Linked DNA regions of Homo sapiens: all the other regions are linked to region 5. The links come from fine-mapping of genetic effects on gene expression. A gene starts in region 5. Each other region holds a variant in brackets. All regions are shown on one strand. Distances are from middle to middle. Region 1 overlaps GAK (cyclin G associated kinase). Region 2 overlaps GAK (cyclin G associated kinase). Region 3 overlaps GAK (cyclin G associated kinase). Region 4 overlaps GAK (cyclin G associated kinase). Region 5 holds the start of GAK (cyclin G associated kinase).

Region 1 (5,098 bases), 48 kb after region 5:
GATGCGGCAGCAAAGCCATAAGTGAAAGTCACTAGGAACGGTCACTTTCGGCATCAGTGAAAATGGTCTCCATGGCCGCAGCACATTGTGGGGACAGGCAGAGTGGAGTCAGCAGAGGGAGGAGGCATGTGGGGCGTTCAGGGAGCCGGGCACAGCTCCAGAGTCCTCCCTGGGGGACTCCAGGCCACGCTCCCTCCCCAGCAGCTGTGGGGATGGTGGGAGCTGCTGTCTGCTGGAAGCCTAAGGCCGCAGGGGCTGGTTCTAGAAATGGCTCTGCTGGGACCCATGGGTTCCAGGCCCTAGGAGGACACAGTTTGGCTTGAGCAGGCGCTGCTTGCATGGCACTCAGGCACAGCTAGCTGCTGCTTGTTAGGGGATGGTGGGAACCCTCCTGACACCCCCAGGTTCCAGCTGAGGGCAGCCCTGCTGTTTGTTTTGCTCTGCCTTCTGTTCACATCACGTGCTTGAGGCAGATGAAGCTGCATAACCTCGTGTTTGTAAAGTTGACTTAGAAGCAACAGTGAGTTCTGGTTGGGCCTGGAGGCTCAAAAGATGGCTGGGCACGGTGGCTCGTGTAATCCCAGCACTTCGGGGGGCCGAGGAGGGAGGATCACTTGAAGATTGAGACGAGCCTGGACAACACAACAACACAGCAAGACCCTGTCTCTACAAAAATAAAAAATTAGCTGGGCGAGGTGGCGTGCACCTGTGGTCCCAGCTACACTGGGGCCTGAGGTGGGAGGATCGCTTGAGCCCAGGAGGTTGAGGCTGCAGTGAGTTGTGATTGTGCCACTGCACTCTGGCCTGGAGTGAGCAAGACCCTGCCTCAATTTAAAAAATGAAAAAAAAAAAAGGACAGTGAATTCATTTGTGCTTCTGGCTCTCCCCCACGGACAAGCCCAGGAGTCAGGACCTGGGTGGCCATGAGCCCCTGGCTGCCCTGGTGCTTGCTGTTCTGAAGCCAGGGCCTCGGGGCCTGAGCCCTGTGTCTGGGCCCTGGTTTCTGTCCCGTCAGCATCCGGTGCAGCCCTAGCACACACACACCTGTGGTACACGTGCCTGAGGCCTACACAGCCAGGTCCATGGGGCCCCCGCAGGGCTGCTGGGGTGGGTGAGATGTGCGTGGATCCTGTGGCACTCAATGCCCACCTTTGCTTAAGGCGTGTCAGCTTGCTGTGCTTGCCGCTGCCTGCCGTGGTACAGGAGCAGTGGGGGTTTCACCATGTTGGTCAGGCTGGTCTCAAACTCCCAACCTCAGGTGATCTCTCTGCCTCGGCCTCCCAAAGTGCTGAGATTACAGGCATGAGCCACCGCACCTGGCCCCTATTTTTGTTTTTCTACCGGTGATTAGATTATAGGTCCAGTAGCCATGCTTTGTGTGGCCTGTTTGTCTCTTGCTGCAAAAGTGGCCAAGCGTCAGGCTCACCGTGCCTCCCCGTCTTCCCTTGTTGCTTTGGAAGACCCGCATCCTGTGTCAGCACCTGCTCGGTGGGTTTAGACGCCTTTTAAAACGTTTGAACGCACGGAAGACCCGCATCCTGAGTCAGCACCTGCTCGGTGGGTTTAGACGGCTTTTAAAACGTTTGAACGCACGGAAGACCCGCATCCTATGTCAGCACCTGCTCTGCGGGTTTAGACGGCTTTTAAAACGTTTGAACGCATGGTCACTTTCAGGCGATGGTTCGGTCGTGTGTATTTGGGTCATTCATCTCTCTGGACCTTTATCCAGGCTTTCCTCTGATGGGGACAGCACCTCTGCGATGTGCCTAGCTGAGGTTGCTCCTAGCCCAGCCTTTCTGGTCCCCGCAGCCTCCGGCCTGCTCTGTCCTGGGAGGGAGGCTCCCTTCTGCTCCTTCCCTCACAAGAACAGCTTGGCCATTCTTACACAGCTGCTGCTGCCAGTGAATTGTGGGATAAACCTGTCAGGGTCCTTGCAGAGTTATTGAGGGTTTTGATCTCTGTGTTACCGATTCCGTGGACCCAGTGTTGGGGGCAGTTGGTCTGTAGAGAGTTGGCTGTGGCCACAGCAGGGGCTTCTAGGCACTCAGGGCAGGGGGCCCTCTCTGCCTCCAGCGGCGTCTGCTGGAGTCGCACTGCTACAACCACCAGGCCTGGGCAGCGCGTGGAGCCTGGCATGACCCGTGACCATCGTCCAAGCCACCCTTGCTCTCCAGCCCTCCCCTTCCACCGGTGTTGCCATCCCTCTCCCAGCCCACTCCTGGGCCGTGCCTCCCTGGAGAGCGCAGGGGAAGGGGCAGTCAGACAGCGGATGTCTCTCCTGTCTCACCCATGCCTCCACCAGCTGCAGGCTGTCATTTCCATCCGTTTCTGATGTAGGGGTCAGCTCCACAGCACGCACACAGCCGGGAAGCTGCCCACACGCCTGTGCACACACACGTTCCTCCTGGGATGCGGCCTCTACAGTGAGAGCCCCACGGCTTCTCCAGGCCTCGGGCTCTGGCTTAAGCCCTGTGACCTAACTGCGGAGTGTTTCTTGTCATAACCAAGTTCTCTTCTTTTTAATTCCAGTTATGCAAAGGGTGACCTGGACATATCTTACATCACATCCAGAATTGCAGGTATGCGTGCCACATGAGGCTGTGGGACGCGCCCCGGCCCTTCCCTGTGTGCCCAGTGAGTCCCTGTTGTGTGTCAGGGCACAGGTGCCTCTGCTCCAGCCTTCTCTGTGGCCAC[A/G]GACTCACAGGGGTGACCTGGGGCCCCTTGGCAGGCAGGCGGCCTGTGCTCAGCACCTCCAGGCGCAGCAGTGGACAGGGTCAGCGCCAGCCTGGCCTCCCATGGCTCCCTGAGGTCATGCCAGGAACAACACAAGGCCGTGTCCGTGGAAAACCAGGGCCTCTGTGCACCAGGCATCCCAGTCACTCATCCCGACACCTGGAGACAGGGCAGGTGTCAGAAAGCTGTCTCAGGAAGTCCCAGCCACCGGCTGATGGGCGTGTGGCTGGGTCCATGCTCCTAGGTCCACCCAGGCTGGGAGTCCACGGAGGGTGAGGGGGCCGGCTGTGTGGGCAGTGGCTGGTGGAGCTGCCGGAGGCTGCGCTTGCCCGGGGGCGTCAGGAGCAGCGAGGCCGCAGCAGCAGCCTGGCCACGAGGTGCGCATCTCCCAGGTGCTGACGCAGGTCTGCTTGTTTCAGTGATGTCATTCCCAGCAGAAGGTGTGGAGTCAGCGCTCAAAAACAACATCGAAGATGTGCGGTTGTTCCTGGACTCCAAGCACCCAGGGCACTATGCCGTCTACAACCTGTCCCCGAGGACCTACCGGCCCTCCAGGTTCCACAACCGGGTGTGTGGCCACAGGCTTTGTCTTGGTGCCACTCTGGAGCTTCCTTCCGCTCCAGTGCAGGGGCATAGCTGAGGGCTTTGGCCAGGGTGGGGCTGTGATGGGGGCGGCCGGAGGTCTCCTGAGGGGCTGCAGAGCGTGGGACAGGAGGGGGCGAGGTGGGGTCTCTGTTGCTCTGAGGATGCCGCTTGCCGGGAACTCTGGAGGCCCCAGCTCCTCACTGCTTCCCACCAGCCAGAGGGTGCTCGAGGCCGAGGCATTCCTTCCAGACACGACACTTGTCAGTATGCAAAGGGACCCAAAGCCCAGGAACAGCTGACTGAGCTCTGTCTGCAAGGCCAGTGGCAGCCCTGGTGCTCAGGTCTCGCGCAGGTGGACGCCTGTTCATGACACCAGCTGGCGGAGGCCCCCGCACTGCAGGCAGGCTGTCCCTCCTAGCTGACCAAGGCTGGGGCGGGGCTCCTCTGCCGTCCGTGCCACCGTGCCCTGTCCCCACAGGTCTCCGAGTGTGGCTGGGCAGCACGGCGGGCCCCACACCTGCACACCCTGTACAACATCTGCAGGAACATGCACGCCTGGCTGCGGCAGGACCACAAGAACGTCTGCGTCGTGCACTGCATGGTGAGCTCGAGGGCCGTGGGCTGGCGCCGTCTTCTGTCAAAGTTCATTATTTCATGCATAGTTCAACAGGATCTGAGCGCCAGTCATGAGCTGGGGCCTGTTCTTCACCCTGGGACACGGAAGAAAGTCCCTGTGCTTGGTGTCTTTGGGTCTGGAGGGGACAGATGACAGATGGCCCCGCCCTTCCCTCCCCATGTGGCCCTTCCTGGCCTTGACCTGCATGCCCGTGTGGAGGCCACTCCGCTGTGTGGGGAGCCCACCTCCCCTCCTGCTCGGTGGCCACCTAAGAGTCACTTCCAGTTTCCCGATCTGCAGCTCGAGGCTTAGTGGTGCTTGAGCCTCCCAGGGTGTGGCAGCTGCCACTGTGGGTGATGGAGTTGAGGTTTCCATGAGGGGTCTTTTGCGGGGTACGGGGCACCAGCAGAGCCTGTTGGAGTGGCCCTAGCCCTGTTCTTCGTTAGGGAACCTTCAGTCTCTGTTGGGCTCCATTCTTGCCTCGGCAGGCACGTTATGTAGCTCCCTAAACATATCCCAGCTTCAGAGAGGAACAGCCCTGCGTCCCTGCAGCCACAGGGTGGGTAGGATGCCCGAGGACCCCGCGAGCCCTTGTCCTGCATGAGTGCGAGGCGCACGCGAGACGTGTCTGTCTGTCCTAGGACGGGAGAGCCGCGTCTGCTGTGGCCGTCTGCTCCTTCCTGTGCTTCTGCCGTCTCTTCAGCACCGCGGAGGCCGCCGTGTACATGTTCAGCATGAAGCGCTGCCCACCAGGCATCTGGCCATCCCACAAAAGGTACTGCGTGGCCCTCCGGGGACAGGGGACAGCTCTGTGGGCCCGTGTGGCACTGCCGCCCCCGCTGTGGTGTCTCCTGGAGGGCCAGTCGGTGCCGCTGCAGGCGCTGGTGGGAAAGGCAGGCCCGGCCTCGCGGAGCCATGGCTGAGCCCTGGGCTTACGGCCGCAGAGCCCGGGGAGGATGGGCCCTCAGCCGCGGTAGTCCTGACTGCTGTGGGGCAGCACCTGCCCAGCTTGTGCATGGATCCTAGGTTCTCTGACAAATGCCATGTATGTGGTGGGCTCTGGTGGATAATGCACGTGAAAATGCCGTGTGGAGCACCTGACACAGGTGCCGTGTGGAGCACCTGACGCTGCTCAGACATGAGTACAGTCACAGCGTGTTTAGG
Region 2 (5,098 bases), 38 kb after region 5:
GAGGGAGGTGAATGACTCAGTCCTCATCGTAAGGAGCGCGCTGAGGCCGAAGATGAGCAGCGGAGCTGGTGCATGGGGCCGACTGGCCTGAGGTCATCCCGGGGCATAGTGTGCGGGACAGGCTGCCCCTCAGTCTGCTGTGCATTTGGAAAGCTGCACGGAAGTGGTGCAACATAAAAAATACTGTTTGTGGGATGCAACTTTTCCTTTGAAATGTTTGTATTTTTTCAGATCACGAGGAATACAACACCAATGTATAGAACACCAGAAATCATAGACTTGTATTCCAACTTCCCGATCGGCGAGAAGCAGGATATCTGGGTGAGGTCTGGCGCCTCTCAGTGGCAGTGCCTGGCTCCGTGCGCCCTACTTAACCTGAGGCGGCGTGGGCCGGGCACCTGCCACTCGGAACTGGCCTGCCTCCTCCACCCCCTCTTCCCCTCCCGTCCCCTTTTCTTTTTCCTTTCCTTAAGAATCACTGTGGCTGCCACTGTTTTTTTGGGTTTTTTTGGAGACAGGGTCTTCCTCTGTCACCCAGGCTGGAGTGCAGTGGTGTGACCTCGGCTCAGGCTCACCGCAGCCTCCCGCCCCTGGGCTCAAGGGATCCTCCCACCTCAGCCTCCCGAGTAGCTGGGACCACAGGTGCTCACCACCATGCCCGGCTATTATTTTGTATTTTTGGTAGAAGGGGTGGTCTCACCATGTCGCCCAGGCCGGTCTCGAACTCCTGAGCTCAAGCGGTCCACCTGCCTCAGCCTCCCAAAGTGCTGCGATTACAGGCTTGAGCCACTGCACCCTGCCCAACCTTGACTACTTCTAATAGGGATGAGTCGAGTAGCAGTTGGGGGCGTCCTGTGCGGCTGGGTCTGCCTGAGGCTCCCCTCGGCCCCGTCCATGGCTTGTTGTGCATCTGGCCCTGAGTGCCTTGGCCCAGGAGTGTCCCTGCCACACCCCAGCCTTGCTGCGCTCAGAGCCAGGCCAGAGTGAGGGCTGAGCCTGATGGCTGGGGTGGTCTCCTGCGTCCTCCCTCATCCCTGCATCTCTCCAAGGCCATGTCCCCATTGACCGAGGGTGACCACGCGTGGAGGGTGTCCTGCCTTGTGGTTCTTTTGACGTCCCCTTACCCCGTCATTCAGCCACCAGGTGCGGCAGTTGGCCCTCCGTAGTGTATTTGCCTACGGACCGGGTCAGCCGTGCCATCAGCCACAGCACATGGGCTGAAGGCTGAGACAGCACGTGGGGCTGCAGGCTGAGACAGTATGTGGGCTGTAGGCTGAGGCCCTGTGTCCCTTGAGGAGTGTGGAAGGATGGGGCCACGTGTGTGGTCATTGCCTGTGTTCTTGGCCCACCCTGGTGACTGGTCCTCTGCACATCCCGCACGAGGACACTCCTGGCCGGCTCTTGCTCGGCCTGGGGTCCCGGTGTGAGCTCTTACTCTTGGCTGGATAAGATCCTGATGCCGAAGTAATCACCAGTCCCTTCTCTGGGCTCACATATTGGGTGATTGACGAGAAGTCGCTGATTGTTCAAGGCCAGTTCTGCGAAAATCCTGAGCAGACTGAGGAGGCTGCTTCCTGCAGCTTCTGCCCTGTGCCCTACACCCTGCATATGGGGTCAGTTCTGAAAAGTGGGTCTCTGCTGTTGCCAAGGACAGGACAGGTGCCTTGCCCCTCGCATAGCACACAGCAGGGTCTGTGCTGGTCCCACCAGCTCATAGATCTTCAGTGCATGAGTGTGGGAACCCCGGAATTTTGAAAGGAACCTTTATTTATTTATTTATTTATTTATTTATTTATTTATTTGAGACAGAGTCTCGCTTTGTTGCTAGGCTGGAGGGCAGTGGCGCGATCTCGGCGCACTGCAACCTCTGCCTCCCGGGTTCAAGCAGTTCTTTGCCTCAGCCTCCTGAGTAGCTGGGACTACAGGCATGCACCACCACGCCTGGCTAATTTTTGTATTTTTAGTAGAGACGGGATTTCACCATGTTGGCCAGGCTGGTCTTGAACTCCTGACCTTGTCATCCACCCGCCTCGGCCTCCCAAAGTGCTGGGATTACAGGCGTGAGCCACTGCGCCCGGCCTGAACGGAACTTTTTAATCTTAAGAGCCTAGAGTCCGTTTAACACTGTCACCTGGACAGTTCTTTGCGGTGAATAGAAGTGGAGCATCCAGGCCTCCCCGTGCCGTGGGAAGCACGCCGCCAGCTCC[G/T]CACAGTCAAGTGATGTTTGTGTAACCACCGACTATACCCCTAGGATCCCCAAGGAAGGAGCCACCCCTCGGCCAGTCACCATGTCTGCGGTGCTCCTCTCACGCCCTTGTCCCCTTGGGCTCGGGCATCACCCCTGCTCTCCCCTCAGACCTGGGAGTCACCCCTGCACTCCCCGCAGGCCCAGGAGTCACCCCTGCGCTCCCCACGGCTCCGACGTCACCCCTGCATTCCCCGCAGGCCTGGGTGTCACCCCTGCACTCCCCACAGGCCCAGGCGTCACCCCTGCGCTCCCCACGGCCCCAACGTCACCCCTGCGCTCCCCGCGGCCCGGGTGTCACCCCTGTTGTTCCCGCAGGCCCCGGTGTCACCCCTGCATTTCCCATGTTCCCGATATCACCCCTGTGTTCCCTGCAGTCCCCAGTGTCACCCCTGCGCTCCCCACGGCTCCGATGTCACCCCTGCATTCCCCGTGGGCCTGGGCATCACCCCTGCTCTCCCCGCAGGCCCAGGCGTCACCCCTGCGCTCCCCGTGGGCCTAGGCATCACCCCTGCTCTCCCCGCAGGCCCTGGGCTGCATCTTGTACCTGCTGTGCTTCCGGCAGCACCCTTTTGAGGATGGAGCGAAACTTCGAATAGTCAATGGGAAGTACTCGATCCCCCCGCACGACACGCAGTACACGGTCTTCCACAGCCTCATCCGTAAGTCCCGGTGGAATGCGTGCGTGGGGCAGGACCCTGGAGCACAGACCCCGCGTGGCTCTGGAGACCCCGCTCCCCTTGGGGCACTGCTCACCTGGCCCCACTCCCGCCCGTCACCATAGTTTTGACAACATCCCTGGGGGGGGGGTTTCCAGAGAGCTCCCCTGCCGCCCACCCCGCTGGTGAATTTGCGGTGCTCTGAGTGGTGATTTTTGATCATTTTGTTCGGTTTTTGTTCTTCCCTTTGCCGCTCCCTTCTTGCTTCTGACGTCACTGATGTGTGTAGAGGGAGTGGCCTCTGGTGGTCTGTGACCTCTGCCAGTGCAGGGGGTGCTGACCCGCCTGGGGAACCGTGGGGCCGAGCGCGCTGTGCTTCTGCTGCAGGCGCCATGCTGCAGGTGAACCCGGAGGAGCGGCTGTCCATCGCCGAGGTGGTGCACCAGCTGCAGGAGATCGCGGCCGCCCGCAACGTGAACCCCAAGTCTCCCATCACAGAGGTGAGGGAGGCACACGTGAGCCCCAAATCCCCCGCAGTGGTGAAGGAGGCACACATGAGCCCCAGATCCCCCGCAGAGGGGAGGGAGGCACATGTGAGCCCCAGATCCCCTGCAGAAGGGAGGGAGGCACACGTGAACCCTAAGTCTCCTATCACAGAGGGGAGGGAGGCACACGTGAGCCCCAGATCCCCCGCAGAGGGGAGGGAGGCACATGTGAACCCCAAGTCTCCTATCACAGAGGGGCGGGAGGCACACCTGAACCCCAAGTTTCCTATCACAGAGGGGAGGGAGGCACATGTGAGCCCCAAATCCCCCCACAGAGAGGAGGGTGGCATGTGGCTGTGCTGCTTCGTCCGGACCCTGCACCCTGGGGGTCTCTGCCCACTTCAGTGGGGAGCCACAAGCTCTTGAGGGCCCTGGGCTCCTGCAGGAGCAGGGTCACCACCGCAGCCCAGGGCCGAGACCCCGGGGGCATGCTGGGACCATTGCCAAGGTCTTCGCACTCTGCACGCGCTCCTCTGGCCTCCTTGAGGTTTGCAGGCGCCTTTCTAGATTCTTCCCCTGACAGGACAGCATGAATTGCTCCTGTGTCTTTGTTTCTGGGGTCTGGTGTCCAAGCCAGGTCAGCCAGCCCTCAGCTCTGGGCGTCCTGGGGTGTCCTGAGTTGCTCTGCGTCTGTGTTTCTGACCCTCAGCTCAGCTCTGGGCGTCCTGGTTGCAGTTGTGTCAGGGCTGGGCCTGGCCAGGGTCCACTCCCAGGCACCGGTGGCTGCTGGCAGCATCAGGGCCTGGGGGCTGGGAGACTGAGGCCCACAGGGCCGTGTGCTTTGTGGAAGTGTGAGGCCTGGGAGGGAGCAGCACGTGTTGGCTGGAAGATGCTTTCCTCAGAGTCTTTTCTGACCCAGCCGTGGACAGGGTGCAGCATCTCCATCACCAGATCCTCGAGGCAGAGCAGACACGCGGCCCGGCCCTCACCCACGGGGAGCAGGGAGGCCCCTGGGCATCCCAGCTCAGGGCCCAGTCAGGACACGCAGGGCCCCTCTGCAGATCTCGCAGGGGTCTGTGTCCAAGGACCCAGGACTCTTGGCTCCTGCATTTTGTCCCCTTTTCAGCCCTTGGGTCGTTTCCACTCCCTGGTAGCTGGAAGCCGGAACTTCCAGGGGCCACTGCAGTGGAGCTGACCCAGGCGGTGGGTGTGGAGCGTGGGGAGAAGGTCAGAGCTGCTGCCCGGAGTCCCTGTCTGAGGACAGGACCCTGTGGGACAAGGAAGGTTTGGGCTGTGTGGAGGGTTTGCAGTTCCTTGGGGGCCGCGTGGGTACAGAGACCTGGGAGCAGGGAAGTGCTGGGAAGCCCAGTGCAGACGGGGAGAGGCTGTGGTGCCCCTCTCTGGCGGCCATCATGGTGGGTGCACCAGCAGAGGGAGCCCTGGTGCTGGGTGCTGGAAGCATTTTGAGGTGTGGGGCGCTCTGAGGCGGGAGAGTTGATGTCACTGGTGGCCTCTCAGCAAGCTTCCCTGGGGCTGTCAGAGAGCGGCAGGAAGGGATCACTCCTGGGCCGTCCTGCTCTTTAGCAGCCTGGGCCTCGTGTCCCCCTCGCTTGGTGGCTCTTTACAGAAAATGCCTGCCCACTCCCCCGGAGGTCACAGAGGACAGTGGGCTCGCAGGGGGGTGTGGGCCTCTTGCTTTGTCGAGTGCG
Region 3 (5,098 bases), 76 kb after region 5:
TGTGGCTTCTCAGAAGAAGCGTCGGCGGCGGGGGGATGATCATCTGAAGGGGCCTCCCTTGCACTTGCCTGGCCGTCGGGTGGAATGCTGGGTGGGAAGTGGCTCCACCTTGGGATGCTTGTTGGTGCCGGTGACCCCCGGACGCTCCAGCATGCAGCCCCAGGCTATGGCATCTGCTCCTGCTCAGCTCCGGGAGCATTTCCCGTCTCCTCATCGTTTCTCCTGTCCTTCCCTGAGTGCCTCAAATTCCTGTGAGCAGGTGTCGGCGTTGGATCTCTAGGGCTGGCTTCGAGTCCTCACTCTCTCCCGGGCTGGCTTTGAGTCCTCACTCTGCTCTTGCGAGCTCACATCTGAAGTGCCTTCTGTTCTGTCATGAAGTCCCAAGAGTTTTTTCGTCTTTGAATGTTCTTTTTATGTTTCAGGTGGTTTTGGGGATTTACTATGTCTTGAGGACATCCATGAGCGTTTCTGTCGGTGTGGTTTTGTATTTTATTTCCCTTTGTGGCCTCTGTCTTGTGTTGTCTGAGAGCACGGTGGGGTTGCGAGGGCCGTGCCCTCGGGAGGAGACCTGCGTGTGCCTTGACTGCCCTGGGCAGCCGGCACTGGGGCAGAAGGAGTGGACTCCCAGGGATCCCCGCCGTTTGTGTCCCAGACACAGCCCCAGCCCTCCGCCTGCTGGCTCGGTGGGCGGCCTGAAACCATCCTGCCTTCTAGGAAGACAGCAATTCTGGAAGAGCAAAGCCGATACAACTGAAGGAAAAAATAGACAAACCCAAATCATAGCTGGCGACGTCAGCACTGCTGTCCCGACACATGACGGAGCAGCTGTACTGAAGGCTGCAAGGATGTAGAAGGGCAGAGGCGCCAGCCAGCAGGGCCCACCAGCTGCAGGCACGGACCTTTCCATGCACCGTGGGAGCCTCCTCCACACAGGCCCTGTCCTCAGAGAACTAGGATTCTGCAGCATGCCGTCTGACCACAATGAAATAGAACGGAAGAATCTTCACACTTGGGAACAAAACAGCACACTTTCAAACGACACCTGGGCCAGAGAGGAGGTCTCAAGGGAGACGATGCGTGGAGCTGAGTGAAGATGCAAGTGCAGCCTAGGAAAGCCCAGGGCCCCATCAGGCAGTGTGGAGACACCCGCAGCCGTGGGGGCTTGCTGTGGAAAAGCTGGAATGCCCCAGCAGTAACCTGAGCTCTCTGCACAAGACATTTGGGGGGAAAAAAAGGGAGCGAAATAAGCCTACAGCAAGCGGAAGGAAAGAAAGAATGAGGAGCCACGGGCAGTGCAGTGGAACACAGGGACAGAGGCCAGTTCTGAAGCCCACAGACCTCTCCCGGGGCTGCTGGGAAGAGTGACCCAGGTCATCGATATGGGGGATGGTGCAGGAGGCACCACTGCAGACCCCGCAGGCTCTACGAGGGTCACGGGTGCAGGCGCCTCTGTGCAGTATGCTTGACGACTTACGTGAAATTGATAAATTCCTCAAAACCAGTTCCTGCCACAACTTACCCAATATCAAGTAGATCCTTTGAAAAATTCTATAAATACAAAGAAAATAAATTCATAATTAAAAACTTCCCAAAAAGGAAACCTGCGGACCCACCTGGGCCACTGGAGAATTTCACCGAATGTTGAAAGAGAATGCCAATTCCACCCTCTCACAGGAAGCAGGAGAGACGGAGCACTTTCTAATTGATTTTACGAAGCTCATACTATCACCCTGATACCAAAATCAGACAGAAACAGCACCGGAAAGGGAAACTGGGACTATATTCCCCATGAATATACACACAGATCCTCAACCAAACTTCAGCAAATAGGATTTATCGGTATATAAAGAGAATTCTACACCAAGATCAAGTAAGATTTATTCCAGGAATCCAAGGCTGACATTTCAGAATTGTTAACAAAATCTATTTAGGTTGCTGCGAAAGTAATTGTGGTTTTGCCATTGAAAGTAATCACAAAAACCGTAATTACTTTTGCACTAATCTGATATCATATTAACTGGCTGAAGAGTCATGTGGTCACATCAACAAGGCAGAAAAGGCATTTAACAAAATTCAGAAAGTCAGCACCTTTTATGGCAGCACTGTCAGCCAGTCATGAGCAGAACGTCGTCAGCTTGGTAACAAGCATGTCTAGAGACCCACAGCCAGGCCAGGCGGAGTGGCTCACACCGTAACCCCAGTGCTCTGGGAGGCCAACGTGGGAGGATTTCCTGAACCCAGGAGTTTGAAACCAGCTTGAGCAATATAGTGAGACCCCTGTAAGAATTAGCCAGCTGTGGTGGTGAGCAGCTGTGGTGAGCAGCTGTGGTGGTGAGCAAATGTGGGCAGCTGTGGTGAGCAGGTGTGAGCAGCTGTGGTGAGCTATGGTGAGCAGGTGTGAGCAGCTGTGGTGAGCAGGTGTGAGCACCTGTGGTGAGCAGCTGTGAGCACCTGTGGTGGTGAGCAGCTGTGGTGAGCAGCTGTGGTGGTGAGCAGGTGTGAGCAGCTGTGGTGGTGAGCAGGTGTGAGCAGCTGTGGTGGTGAGTAGGTGTGAGCAGCTGTGGTGGTGAGCAGCTGTGGTGAGCAGCTGTAGTGAGCAGCTGTGGTGAGCAGGTGTGAGCAGCTGTGGTGAGCAGCTGTGGTGGTGAGCAGGTGTGAGCAGCTGTGGTGAGCAGCTGTGGTGAGCAGGTGTGAGCAGGTGTGAGCAGCTGTG[GTGA/A]GCAGGTGTGAGCAGCTGTGGTGAGCAGGGGTGAGCAGCTGTGGTGAGGTGTGAGCAGTTGTGAGCAGCTGTGGTGAGCAGGTGTGAGCAGCTGTGGTGGTGAGCAGCTGTGGTGAGCAGGTGTGAGCAGCTGTGGTGAGCAGGTGTGAGCAGCTGTGGTGGTGAGCAGGTGTGGTGAGCAGCTGTGGTGAGCAGGTGTGGTCCCAGCTACTCAGCAAGCTGAGGTGGGAAGATCACTTGGATCGCTTGAGCCCAGGAGGTCAAGGCTGGCCTGAGCTATTATTGCATCACTGCACTCCAGTCTGGGCAGCAGAGCAAGACCCTGTCTCCAGAAACCTGCAGCCAACATCTTTTTTTTGTTTGTTTGTTTTGAGACAAGAGTCTTGCTCTGTTGCCCTGGCTGGAGTGCAGTGGCATAATCTTGGCTCACTGCAACCTCCACCTCCCAGTTTCAAGCAATTCTCCCGCCTCAGCCTCCTGAGTAGCTGGGATTACAGGCATGCACCACCATGCCCAGCTAATTTTTGTATTTTTAGTAGAGACATGGTTTCACCATGTTGGCCAGGCTGGTCTCAAACTCCTGATCTCAAGTGACCTCCCAAAGTGCTGGGATTACAGGTATGAGCCACCCTGCCTGGCCAAGCCAATATCATTTTTAACCATCCTCCTAAAATCAGGAACAGGGCAGGAGTGTCTTTTCTCCACTTGTACTTGTCGGAAGTCCCAGCTGCTGCCATTTGGCAAGAAAAGGAGATCAAAGTTACACGCACTACAAAGGGAGAAATAAAATTACTCCTGTCTGCAGATGACACGATTGTCTGCGCAGGGACTCTGAAGCAATCTACAAAGATCTTTTAGAACTATGAGTTCAGTAAGGTCGCAGGATACCAGGTCAACACACAAAAATCTGTCCTATTTCTGTTTACTTGCAATTATATAAGGAAGCCAACATTTAAAACAGTACCATTTACAATCACCTTTTTTTTTTTTAGAAAAAATAAACATTTAGGTATAAATCTGACCAGACATGTCTAGGGCTTGTGTGGTGGGACTACAAAACCAACCGTGGCGAAAGAGACCAGAGGAGATGCGAGTGAAGGGACGGACGCTGCACTCACGGCCTGGAGGCTCCCGAGTAAGGTGGCCGTTCTCCTGTGTGCATCTGTAGCCTAACGCAGTTCCTACCAACGCCTCAGCAGGGATTTTCCTAGATACAAATGAGCTTACTGTACAGTGTATTTGAAAGACAGATGGACTAGATGCCTGGAATAGTTTATTTTTTTGAGATGGAGCCTCGCTCTGTCGCCCAGGCTGGAGTGCAGTGGCCTGATCTCGGCTCACTGCAAGTTCCCTTACCGGGTTCACGCCATTCTCCTGCCTCAGCCTCCTGAGTAGCTGGGACTACAGGCACCCGCCACCACGCCCAGCTAATTTTTTGTATTTTTAGTAGAGATGGGGTTTCACCGTGTTAGTCAGGATGGTCTTGATCTCCTGACCTCGTGATCCGCCCGCCTCGGCCTCCCAAAGTGCTGGGATTACAGGCGTGAGCCACCGCACCCAGCCATGCCTGGAATATTTTTGTAATGGAAAAATGAAATGGGAGAAGTCACTGTTCCTGGCTTTGAGGCTTACTCTGAAGCCACAAATCAACATTGCGGCGATGGCAGACAGACGCGTCTGTGGAGAGAAGAGAGGACTCAGGCCACACAAGAGAGACCAGCGGAGCTTTGACAGAGGCAGAAAACCCGTTCATCAGATGGTCTGGAGCACCTGGGCAGCGGTAGGCAAAGCCCTAAGCCCTCGTTCTACAGAACAGCTCATCAGAATGCAGGGCCTTTAGGTGAAAACCTTTGTGGCCTGGGGCTGGGCAGAGTTCGTAGACTCGCCACCCAAACCACACCCATAAGAGGACAGGTGGACCCAACTTCAGAGCTCTGAGCATCTGAGCTGCGGACTGGGAGAAGATATTTCCAAACCACCTATTTGACAAAGGACTCATCTACAGAATATAAAAATACAGTCAAAAACAAACTGAAAGCAATCCAGTTAGAAAATGGGCGAGAGCGCAGGGTCCTCTGCCTACGAAAACCAGAGACCTTTGTTCACTTGTTTATCTGCTGACCTTCCCTCCACTATTGTCCTGTGACCCTGCCAAATCCCCCTCTGCGAGAAACACCCAAGAATGATCAATTAAAAAAAAAAAAAAAAGAAAGAAAATGGGCGAGAGACGGCCGGGCATGGTGGCTCATGCCTGTAATCCCAGCACTTTGGGAGGCTGAGGCAGGCGGATCACCTGAGGTCGGGAGTTCGCGACCAGCCTGACCAACATGGAGAAACCCTGTCTCTACTAAAAATACAAAAATTAGCTGGACGTGGTGGCAC
Region 4 (5,098 bases), 83 kb after region 5:
TCCACAGGCTCACCAGCTGGATTCCCTCCTGGGGGCTTCATTCCCAAAACGGCCACCACGCCCAAAGGCAGCAGCTCCTGGCAGACAAGTCGGCCGCCAGCCCAGGGCGCCTCATGGCCCCCTCAGGCCAAGCCGCCCCCCAAAGCCTGCACACAGCCAAGGCCTAACTATGCCTCGAACTTCAGTGTGATCGGGGCGCGGGAGGAGCGGGGGGTCCGCGCACCCAGCTTTGGTGAGTCCCCCACTCTCTGTTGCTGTGGAGTTTGCAGAGACCTCCCTGAATTGGCTAAAGGTAGAACCTATGTTGTTTTCTTCATCTCAGAGCCCAGTCCTGGGACAGGCACGGCCAAGCCACTCAGAGAACGACGCGGTTTCCGATGTGTGTTCACTGGTCTCTCTCTGGGTCAGGCCTCTGGGTCCCTCTTGTTCCAGTGACACCTTCTTGACCTGTTTTTAACAAATGGCCTTTGCAACCCTGTCTTGTCTTCCCTCTTCTTTACTCTGGAGGCATCAGGATGGTAGCCCTGTTCCCGGGGGCAGCAGGTGGAATTGGGCCTGTGTGTCTCTGCAGAAAGTTTCTGTTCTTAACTGGGCTTTGTGGCTCACGCCTATAATCCCAGCACTTTGGGAGGCTGAGGCGGACAGATCGCTGGAGCCCAGGAGTTCAAGACCAGCTTGGGCAACAGTGATACCTCCTCTCTACAAAAAATGTAAAAATTAGCCAGGCATGGTGGCGCATGCCTGTGGTCCCAGCTACTTGGGAGGCTGAGGCAAGAGGATCGCTTGAGGCCGGGAGGCAAAGGCTGCAGAGAGCTGAGATCACGCCATTGCACTCTGGCCTGGGTGACAGAGTGGAGACCCTGTCTCAAACAAAAAAAAGTTTCTGTTCTTTTCTAGCTCAAAAGCCAAAAGTCTCTGAGAACGACTTTGAAGATCTGTTGTCCAATCAAGGCTTCTCCTCCAGGTCTGACAAGAAAGGGCCAAAGACCATTGCAGAGATGAGGAAGCAGGACCTGGCTAAAGACACGGACCCACTCAAGCTGAAGGTGGGTGGGTGGGCAGCTCTTCCTGGGAGCCCAGAGGCCTCAACCCATGGCCCCTGGAGCATCTGCTGTGCCTTATGGAGCCGGCGTCTCCAGACAGCAACCTTTCACCCCTGGAGCATCTGCTGTACCACATGGAGCCGGCGTCTCCAGACAGGGACCTGTCACTGCCGATGGGCCTGGCAGCCCTCAAGGACAGGGTGGCCTGAGGCCAGGGGGGCAGGGCAGAGTCAGGCCCCAGGCTGTGCTGCTCCCCACGTGCCCAGATGGCTCAGCGCTGGTGGGGGTGGGGTGGGCGGGCGTTACAGGAGTGAGTGCCCCGGGGTGTTTGCAGAGACTGTTGAGGGCAGGCGTCTCTTGGGGGCTGCTCTGGGTACTGAGCCTCCCAACCCAGGACGCTCACTGGGGGGTGAGGATGCAGCGGTCAGGCTGTCACTGTGCCGGCCCTGAGACACGCCCTGCTCTGTGGCTTGGCCGATGCCCAGCTCTGCAGGCCACATGCGCCTGTGACCTTGGGGTCCTTTCACAGGCACCAGGGACCATCCCCTTCTCCCTCGGAGTCTGGGGCCTGGGATGGGCCAAGGGGTTGCACCACCAGAACCAGGGTTTGTGTCCTCGGTGAACATCTGGCTGAGACGAGGGTCCCTCTGGCCCCAGGCCCTGAAACATGAAGACCACCTGGCCCTGTGTCGTCCGGAGTGGGCTCTATATAGTTGAGGGCAGGGCGTGCAGTGGGACAGTGTCTGTGAGCCGGGCTGAGCCCACCCCACGTGACCAGGCACTTCCTCAGCGTCGTGCCTCAGTTTCCGCGGTGCAGAGGAGGAGGGCAGGCAGGTGCCCAGGGCTCGGCAAGCTCCGTGTCTCCCGCAGCTCCTGGACTGGATTGAGGGCAAGGAGCGGAACATCCGGGCCCTGCTGTCCACGCTGCACACAGTGCTGTGGGACGGGGAGAGCCGCTGGACGCCCGTGGGCATGGCCGACCTGGTGGCTCCGGAGCAAGTGAAGAAGCACTATCGCCGCGCGGTGCTGGCTGTGCACCCCGACAAGGTGAGCAGAGCTGCCAGGCGGCCGCTTGAGGCCTTCAGGGGCGGGGCGGGGGGGGGGTCCTGCCCCGCCCGCCCCCGCATGCTTATAAGAGGCGCTTACACCGCCTGTCACCCATAGGCTGCGGGGCAGCCGTACGAGCAGCACGCCAAGATGATCTTCATGGAGCTGAATGACGCCTGGTCGGAGTTTGAGAACCAGGGCTCCCGGCCCCTCTTCTGAGGCCGCAGTGGTGGTGGCTGCGCACACAGCTCCACAGGTTGGGAGCCGTCGTGGGACCTGGGTCCCCACCGTGAGGACCCCGTGGGCGACAGCAGGTGTGGCCAGGGTGGGGCTCCGAGCCCCGGGTCACCGCCCGCCCAGCGTTCCAGGCACATGAAGAGAAAGCATTCCAAAGCCTCTGATTGTTGTTTCCTTTTTCTCCTCCCGAAGGAACAGCTGATTCATGCTCCTCCCGCAATTGTCACGTCTGTGATTTATTTGGTGTTTCGGGCGTGG[C/T]CTCTGGAGCCCCGGCACGTGGTGGGCCACGCTGCTGGCGCTCATGGGCCCTGGTGTTTGCACCGCACTTTGTAATCAGTCCCGTGGTTGTCTGTACAGAATTAAACTATTTTCCGATGACTGCTGTGTCTCCAGTGTGGATCCACTCGCCCAGGTGCCGTTCACCAGCTGGGGCACAAGGCTGTGCTTCCTCAGCAACCTTGCCGTGGTTGGATTGTTGCAGGGGCCGAGTGGAGAGGAGAAGCGGGTCCCGGGGCTGCAGCGGCTCTGGGCAGCTCTTCAGGGGGCCATAGAGCCCAGCCAGGGCAAGGCCAAGGGCGGGGGCCCCTGCAGTCCCCAGACCCCCTTCCTCCCCTCGGCCCCGGGACTCCTCTCTCCTCTCCACTTGGCCCCTGCCCCTGGGCCCTGGACCTAGGAGCAAGGGTGGGCTCCACACTGCCCCTGTGCCATCCCCGCAGGGCCAAGGTGGCCTCCGGGCTGTCGGGCTGGTGGAGGACCAGGGGCCCCTGGAAGGAGAAGGTGACCATGGTGAGCCCCCACCCCACAGCAGACTCGAGGAGGCCCTGAATCATAGCCCTGAACTCACCGCCAGGCTCTTCCTGTTTTCAGAGAATAATGACTGCACGTTTGCTATGCACCCGCCACTATTTTTAGCTCTTTTAAAAAATAATGAGAAGCTAAATAGGTGCTGAGATTTTCACATCAAGGTCGTCTGGATTCCGGCTCCGGGTCTGGCCACCCCAACTCAGATGCTCCTGCTCTGGGGGCAGCTCGGGCCACGCTCCCTCTAGGCTCTCCAGCCTCAGCCCTGTGCTGTGCGGCCCCCTCCTCTCCTGCTGCCGCCCACGTCACACCCAAGCTCCAAACTAATCCCCCAGACCCCGCCCCAGACCCTTAACTCTGAAAGCTTGGGTCGCTTCTCCCCGGCCTGTGGCAAACCCAGCCACCCTGCCTGGACAAGTGAGTCCACCTCCCTCTGGCTGGCTGCACACCCTTCCTCCGTCAGGGGCCTGAGCCTCTGGTTATGTGTGGAGAGCAGCGGGTGGCCGGTCCAGGCTAGGCCGAGACTGCGGAGGATGGAGGAAGGTGTGGAGTGCAGCAGGTCACTGGTCCGGGGTAGGCTGAGATGGAGTGCATAGAATGGAGGCCAGGACGGTGGGGTCTGGGTTGCAGGACAGGAAAACCCCCATCCAGGCTGACCCAGCTCAGAAGGGAGTCTGTGGCCCCCACCTGGCCATGCTACCGCCAGAATTTCTCCTCTTCCAACCATTCAGCTCAGCATGGAGACACGCAGGTGCACAGGCATGTACAAGCCGTGCGCACACGCAGACGGCTACACAAGGTCACACACGGTGCCACCCAGACACCTGCGCACACGCAGACATGGCTGCACAGGGTCACGCACGGCGTTACCCGGACACCTGCGCACATGCAGACGGCTGCACAGGGTCACGCATGGCGCCACCCGGACACCTGCGCACACGCAGACACGGCTGCACAGGGTCACGCACGGCGCCACCCGGACACCCACACGTGAAAGGCCCAGGATGCACCATCTTCCCAGCCGGCCACTGGCCTGAGTGCTACCCACAGTCACTGAGGCTCCATTCTGCACGTGGGAGCCGGGTCTGCGGTCACCGAGCCTGTGACTATGCTCCGTCCTGCACGTGGACACAAGGTCATCCTTGCCGGGTTGTAATGCATAGACCACGTGAAGCTTGAAGAGAGACTGCACCTGTGTGACACCCCCTTGTGTGACAGCATCTTCTCGGTGACTTCACGGAGATACAAATGGCAGCGGCCAAGCAGCGATGCTCACATCACTGGTCCTGGAGGAAATGCAAGTTGGAGCCACAGCAAGATGCTGCCGCACCCACTAGGGCACCCAGTCAAGACCCACCAAGCCAAGTGTCCCCACGCATGTGGAGAAGCCCACACCCTCACGCAGTCTGGGTGGGAGCTTAAAATGGCACAACTGCTTTGGAAAACCGCTTGGCAGTCTTTTTTTTTTTTTTTTTTGAGACGGAGTCTCGCTCTGTCGCCCAGGCTGGAGTGCAGTGGCGGGATCTCGGCTCACTGCAAGCTCCGCCTCCCGGGTTCACGCCATTCTCCTGCCTCAGCCTCCCAAGTAGCTGGGACTACAGGCGCCCGCCACTACGCCCGGCTAATTTTTTGTATTTTTAGTAGAGACGGGGTTTCACCGTGTTAGCCGGGATGGTCTCGATCTCCTGACCTCGTGATCCACCCGCCTCGGCCTCCCAAAGTGCTGGGATTACAGGTGTGAGCCACCGCGCCCGGCCGGCAGTCTTTTAAAAAGCAAAATAGACGCCGGTGCGGTGGCTCACACCTGTAATCCCAACACTTCGGGAGGCGGAGGCGGAGGCAGGCGGATCACCTGAGGTCAGGAGTTGGAGACCAGCCTGACCAACATGGAGAAACCCCGTCTGTACTAAAAATACAAAATTAGCCGGGCATGGTGGCACACACCTGTAGTCCCAGCTACTCGGGAGGCT
Region 5 (5,098 bases):
TAGAGAATTCCTTCACCTTCATTCCAATAAATACATAAGGTCACCTACAACTGCAGCCCATTTTTCTTCCTGAGTGTTTTTCCTATGTCCAAAGCAAATATCTCTACCTATGCTCTTGATGTCATTCCCCTCCTATGTTCTAAGAGATAGAAGATATCTCATTAAGATAGAATTATCTTATTATTCCTCTTTTTTCTGTACCAGCAAACCTTCTCTCCCTTCCATCCGCTTTAGGCTGCTCAAGAATCTCTCATCTTAAAACATCTCAATACTACATCACCCTTGTAGCTCCCTGGAGCTAAGGGTGCCGAATTTGTTGGCCTGAAGTTGTTCATATTCTCTTCCACAGACAAACATTTTGAGTTATCTCCACTTGCCATCTCTACCTCATCATCTCTTCATCCCTCTACGGTAATATGTAGCTTCCACCTCATTACTCCAATGAAGCTATTCTTGGTGAGGTCACCAATGATCCCTTGTGAATAAATCCAACACATATCTTCCATTTCTTTTTCTACTTGACTTTTAAGTGGCATTCGACACTCTTAGCTGCACTCTCTGCCCCGAACATCCTCGTTCCTTGGCTCTGTTACGACACTCTCTTGGTTTTCTTCCTCCTTCACTGACTGCTCTTTCTCCACAAACTGTCTATTCTCTGAAGATTCTAACCTCTTTATGTCTAGTACACCATCTCTGTTGGTCCTCTCTTCAGCTCCTAGAGCCAACTGCCACCTCTATGCTGAGGATGCCCAGATATCTGTCTCTAGCAGGGATTCTTTCCTGAGCTCTCTATCCTTCTATTCCACAGTCGACCAGACAAACGCACTGGCTGGAAAAGCCATGACTTGCGTTGAATTGCAGTTGTATCACTTGTTGGCCCTGGCCGAATAATGGCATTGTTGAGCATATTTTCTCATCCCAAAATAAAGGGGGTTAATTATACTGTGCTTTCTTCACAAAGATGTTTTCACTACAATGAACTATTACAGAAAAGGGTGTTGTAAGCAATAAATCAGTGCCTAAACTAAGCTATTGCTACTGTTATTTTTGTTATATATATTTTTAAAGATGTCATTTGGCTTCATGCAATACTTCATTCCATAACATAGATAAGTGTTCCAACGAGCTGAGGCTATTATCTTTTAATGATAAAGATAACAGATGTTAGCTTCTGGGACGGCTAAGAGGCTGATGTGAGCTTTAGAATCCATTTTTGAGTTGGAGAACAAATAACTCTGTTGAAGGGGTTGCAACCTTAAATGACTATAGGAACCAGGCAGGTAACATACATGAGCCCATCTGGTCAGGCAAATGACTGTGTCTTACCTCAAGGGACCACTCTAGGTAATTGGTAACACACATCATTTTGGGTCCAATATTGACAGGTTTGATTTTTCCACAGAAGCTGGAAAACTAGGTTTTTAACATTTAGGCCTTTCAATTATTATTATTATTATTATTTATTTTTTGAGGCGGAGTCTCAGGCTAGGGTACAGTGGCGCCCGCCTCCCGGGTTCAAGCGATTCTCCTGCCTCAGCCTCCCGAGTAGCTGGGATTACAGGCACCCGCCACCACGCTCGGCTAATTTTTGTATTTTTAGTAGAGACGGGGTTTCACCATGTTGACCAGGCTGGTCTGGAACTCCTGACCTCAGGTGATCCGCCTGCCTCGGCCTCCCAAAGCACTGGGATTACAGGTGTAAGCCACCGCGCCTGGCATCAGTCTTTAAATGATAGCAACTAATTCACCTCCTGCTACCCACTCCCAACCCCCAAATACTGTGTGGGCCAAAAACTAAAAATGCATTGTCTGTGAGCCATTTCCTTATTATCCTATAAGGAAAGTCACCATTTCATCTCCAAATAGTTGGGCATTACGAACCCTTCCAAGTGGTTCATGAGGATTTGCTTTTGCCTTGGAAAATGTCAGGGTGAGAACGAACCTTGAGGGTCACAGGGCAGTCTCTGCAGTGTTGTGGTTGCCCAGGACGAAGGTTTTTCTAGCCCACGGCTCCCACTACTGGTCACTGCCCCAGGCCAGACCCTGGCCCTCTCCTCGGAAGACAGAGCAATGCAGCAGCGTTTCCCCTGCAAACTGCCTGCCTGGCTGCTGGGAGGGGGCTGCCAACCTTACTCACTAAGCGTCACAGGAAACTCCGACCTCCATGAGACGAAAACCAAGTATTTACTGAAAGCTTAACGCACGCTAACTCCTTGCTCCTTAGCCAACTGAGAGAAAAATTCGCGAACCCATTCGCAAACGCGGCGCTAACAGCAAACGGGAGGCTGACTCCACCCAGAGGATGGCGAAGCGCTTAAACCGGAGACACCTGAGAAGGAGCCTCCCACAAAACAGACCATGTGGGGAACGGTACCGGGAGCTGGACTGGGGCGCTGAACTACCTGGGCGGGAATCGCCTCGGCGACTGTTCCGCGCGCCTCCGCTTGAGTCAGCCCGGCCGGGAGCTTGACAGCCGGAAGTTCATCGCAAGCCCGGCGACGCCGCGCACGCGCTGTCTCCGTCAGACCTCCGCGCCTGCGCGCGCAGCCAGGAAGTGAGGCCGCGGCGGAGGGGACGGGGCTAGGCCGGGTCGCCGCCTGACGCGACGCGTCCTCACGGGCGCCTACGTCACGGCGTCGAGGCGGAAGATGGTGCACCTCCGGGCCGGCGGTTGCTGAGCTGACCCGGACGGCGAGGGAGCGGGAGCCCGAGCCCGACCACTCCGGCTGCCGCGGGGTGCGGCGCAGCCACCGCCATGTCGCTGCTGCAGTCGGCGCTCGACTTCTTGGCGGGTCCAGGCTCCCTGGGCGGTGCTTCCGGCCGCGACCAGAGTGACTTCGTGGGGCAGACGGTGGAACTGGGCGAGCTGCGGCTGCGGGTGCGGCGGGTCCTGGCCGAAGGTGAGGCCCCGGGTCGGCAGCGCGGGTGCGGCCGCGGAGTGTTGTCTCCGGGACGCTGGGGGCAGCGTCAGCCCGGAGTGGAAGGGCGTGGGTTAGGGCTGGGGAGGGTCCCAGCGGGATCGTGGGTCAGGGTCGGCCAGGGGAGGGTCTCTGCCGAGGGCGTGGGTCAGGGCCAGGCGAAGGTCATAGCGCGGGCGTAGGTGAGTGCCTGCTGGCGGTGATTGCGGAGGGCGAGGCTGGGACCGGGTCGGGGTACTTTCTTGTCATAAGAGTAGGGTCAAGTCGGAGCAAGGCCTGGGGCTTGGGGAACCCCCTCAGGGTGGGTGGGGGAAGATGTTACGGTGAGGTGGGGGATGGTGGCAGGCAGGGAGCTTGGGTGGGGACCCACAGCGGAGACTGAGGGACGGTGCCTAGAAGGCCGACAGCTGGAGTCAGGAGGTGAGCGGTGCAGGAGGTGGGTTTAAGCCTTGGCCTTTTGCCGGACATCTGGGGTTATTGAGCAGGCAGGGACAGGACTGGACTTTGGAGGTTAGGGCTGGTTCTTCTACAGTCCAGGGAACTTGAGAGTTGGTGGGTGCACACGTGTTGCAGGTAGTTGCGGTTGTAGCCTGGGGGGTGGGGGGGTTGGCCGAGGGTAGACTGGGCTGTGTCTCGTGATCCCCCTTCGTCTTTCAACACCTCAGTGTTTCTCTTCCCGGTGAACATCTACTCGTGTGATTCCGTGTGTAGTACAGGAAGCAGAGCCAGTGGTTGTGACCTATATAGAACTTGCAGAGTGGACAGGTCACTCGGCTTAAGTCCTCTTGAGTCAGTCTTGAGTCAGTTTTGTCTCTGCATGCTATTTCTAGCTCCCTGGATGTCCTCTCCGTTCACACGGAATCGATCACCAGTGCCAGTGGGTCCCATTCTCTCTTGTGGATTTTCCTTACATTTTTTGTCCAGTGGTGCCTGGAGGTGTGTCATATTTCACTGGCTGTGAAGTTTATGGGCTAAACACAGTTGACTTGGGTGCGGAAGCGTAACTCTATTCTGCTGTATTGGCACAGGGAGAGGGAGTGAAGCGACACAAAAGCCCTCACCCTCACCAGCTCCCTGGTACCTCTCAGGGCTGGAGGGTTAGCCTGTCCAGGTGCCTGCTCTGTGACCAGACAGGAGACTATCCCAGAATTCTGATTATCACAAAAGGCCTGCGGAGACATTTTGACTGTAGCATTATCACACACTTTGTCTCCATTGTGGTCAAAACCAAACAGATTTTGGGTATGATTTGGTCAGAAAGTCTAAGCTCTTCTTTCAGAAGTGGGGGCTGAAGTGTGATATTCTTTCACATCAGTTGGAAGATTTCTCTCAGATCAAATCATTTATTCTGAAAATACTAGGTGGTTATCTTCATTCTTTAAGAAGTTTATTGTGGACAGGACTTGCTTTCTGGAACTTCAGACTTGTGCTCAAGGGGTGGAGAGACAGAGGCAGCACAGGGACAGATCCTTAGGGGTGGTACAGACAGTGTGAGCTTTGGGAAGGGGCCAAGCAGAAGATGGCACGGATCTTGGTGGGAGGGATGGAGAATGCACCCTCACTGGGGCCCGGAGAGGAAGATTCGTATAAAGAAAGAAGCTTGTGGGTCACTTAGCACCCAGGAAGAAGAACAAGGAAATGTGGGCAGCTGCTGAGGTTGTGCAAAAGAACTTGTTTCCCTTTGCTATCTAGGCAAGTCAGGAGATAAAAATAACCAATGCAATTAGGAGCTGTAGATTTCCTCCTTGTAAACTTAATAGGTGGCCTGCAGCCTCCTAAGTACTTTGAAGCCTCTTTGAACTGAAACAGAGTGTGAAAGCTGAATTAAGTATTTTATATAAACATACTTAATTAAGTTTTGTCTGAACAGCAACCTTAGAACATAGGCTATGGGAGTTTAGGCTGTCTTGTGTAAACATGGTGATGGCTGGTAATCTGAACCCTTGAGTACAGATGTTTACACTTCCAGAATTTTTCAGGTTTCAGAATGGTCATTGCAGCATATAACCTGTATATCGTGGGATACTCCCAGAAGACTTGGGAAAGTATTCTGTAATTGAATACATTAATATTTCTGTAATTAAATGAATAAATATTCTCACTGTGGGATAATTAAAGTCTGTAATTAACCCCATATCAGTTCATGTCAGGTTTTATCCCAAATGAGGTTATTATGATAG

The links. PIP is the estimated chance that this variant, and not a neighbour inherited with it, causes the effect.
Region 1: its variant is fine-mapped to the expression of GAK in whole blood (TOPMed, PIP above 0.99).
Region 2: its variant is fine-mapped to the expression of GAK in whole blood (TOPMed, PIP above 0.99). The same link has a PIP of 0.9 or more in esophagus muscle, gastroesophageal junction, sigmoid colon and tibial artery.
Region 3: its variant is fine-mapped to the expression of GAK in skeletal muscle (FUSION, PIP 0.90).
Region 4: its variant is fine-mapped to the expression of GAK in whole blood (TOPMed, PIP above 0.99). The same link has a PIP of 0.9 or more in B cells, monocytes, monocytes after interferon gamma and transverse colon.

The regions. Positions count from the first base shown.
Region 1 is chr4:881,518-886,615 of GRCh38, reverse strand. GAK (cyclin G associated kinase) reads left to right here. Exons shown (of 28, transcript NM_005255.4): 12 at 2,530-2,579; 13 at 3,153-3,301; 14 at 3,797-3,919; 15 at 4,576-4,709. Among named protein-coding and RNA genes, the nearest start is that of GAK, 48 kb to the left of the region's middle. The variant A/G (reference allele first, on the strand shown) is at 2,695.
Region 2 is chr4:891,683-896,780 of GRCh38, reverse strand. GAK (cyclin G associated kinase) reads left to right here. Exons shown (of 28, transcript NM_005255.4): 7 at 232-321; 8 at 2,772-2,907; 9 at 3,292-3,404. Among named protein-coding and RNA genes, the nearest start is that of GAK, 38 kb to the left of the region's middle. The variant G/T (reference allele first, on the strand shown) is at 2,208.
Region 3 is chr4:853,945-859,042 of GRCh38, reverse strand. The region is part of intron 24 of GAK (cyclin G associated kinase); the gene reads left to right. Among named protein-coding and RNA genes, the nearest start is that of CPLX1, 30 kb to the right of the region's middle. The variant GTGA/A (reference allele first, on the strand shown) is at 2,714.
Region 4 is chr4:846,884-851,981 of GRCh38, reverse strand. It overlaps GAK (cyclin G associated kinase), which reads left to right. Exons shown (of 28, transcript NM_005255.4): 25 at 8-232; 26 at 898-1,046; 27 at 1,914-2,090; 28 at 2,208-2,705. The coding sequence ends at 2,309. Among named protein-coding and RNA genes, the nearest start is that of CPLX1, 23 kb to the right of the region's middle. The variant C/T (reference allele first, on the strand shown) is at 2,586.
Region 5 is chr4:929,845-934,942 of GRCh38, reverse strand. GAK (cyclin G associated kinase) reads left to right here and starts at 2,627. Exons shown (of 28, transcript NM_005255.4): 1 at 2,627-2,900. The coding sequence starts at 2,756. TMEM175 (transmembrane protein 175) reads right to left here and starts at 2,483. Exons shown (of 11, transcript NM_032326.4): 1 at 2,403-2,483. RefSeq lists an enhancer at 2,042-2,361 and a silencer at 2,522-2,841.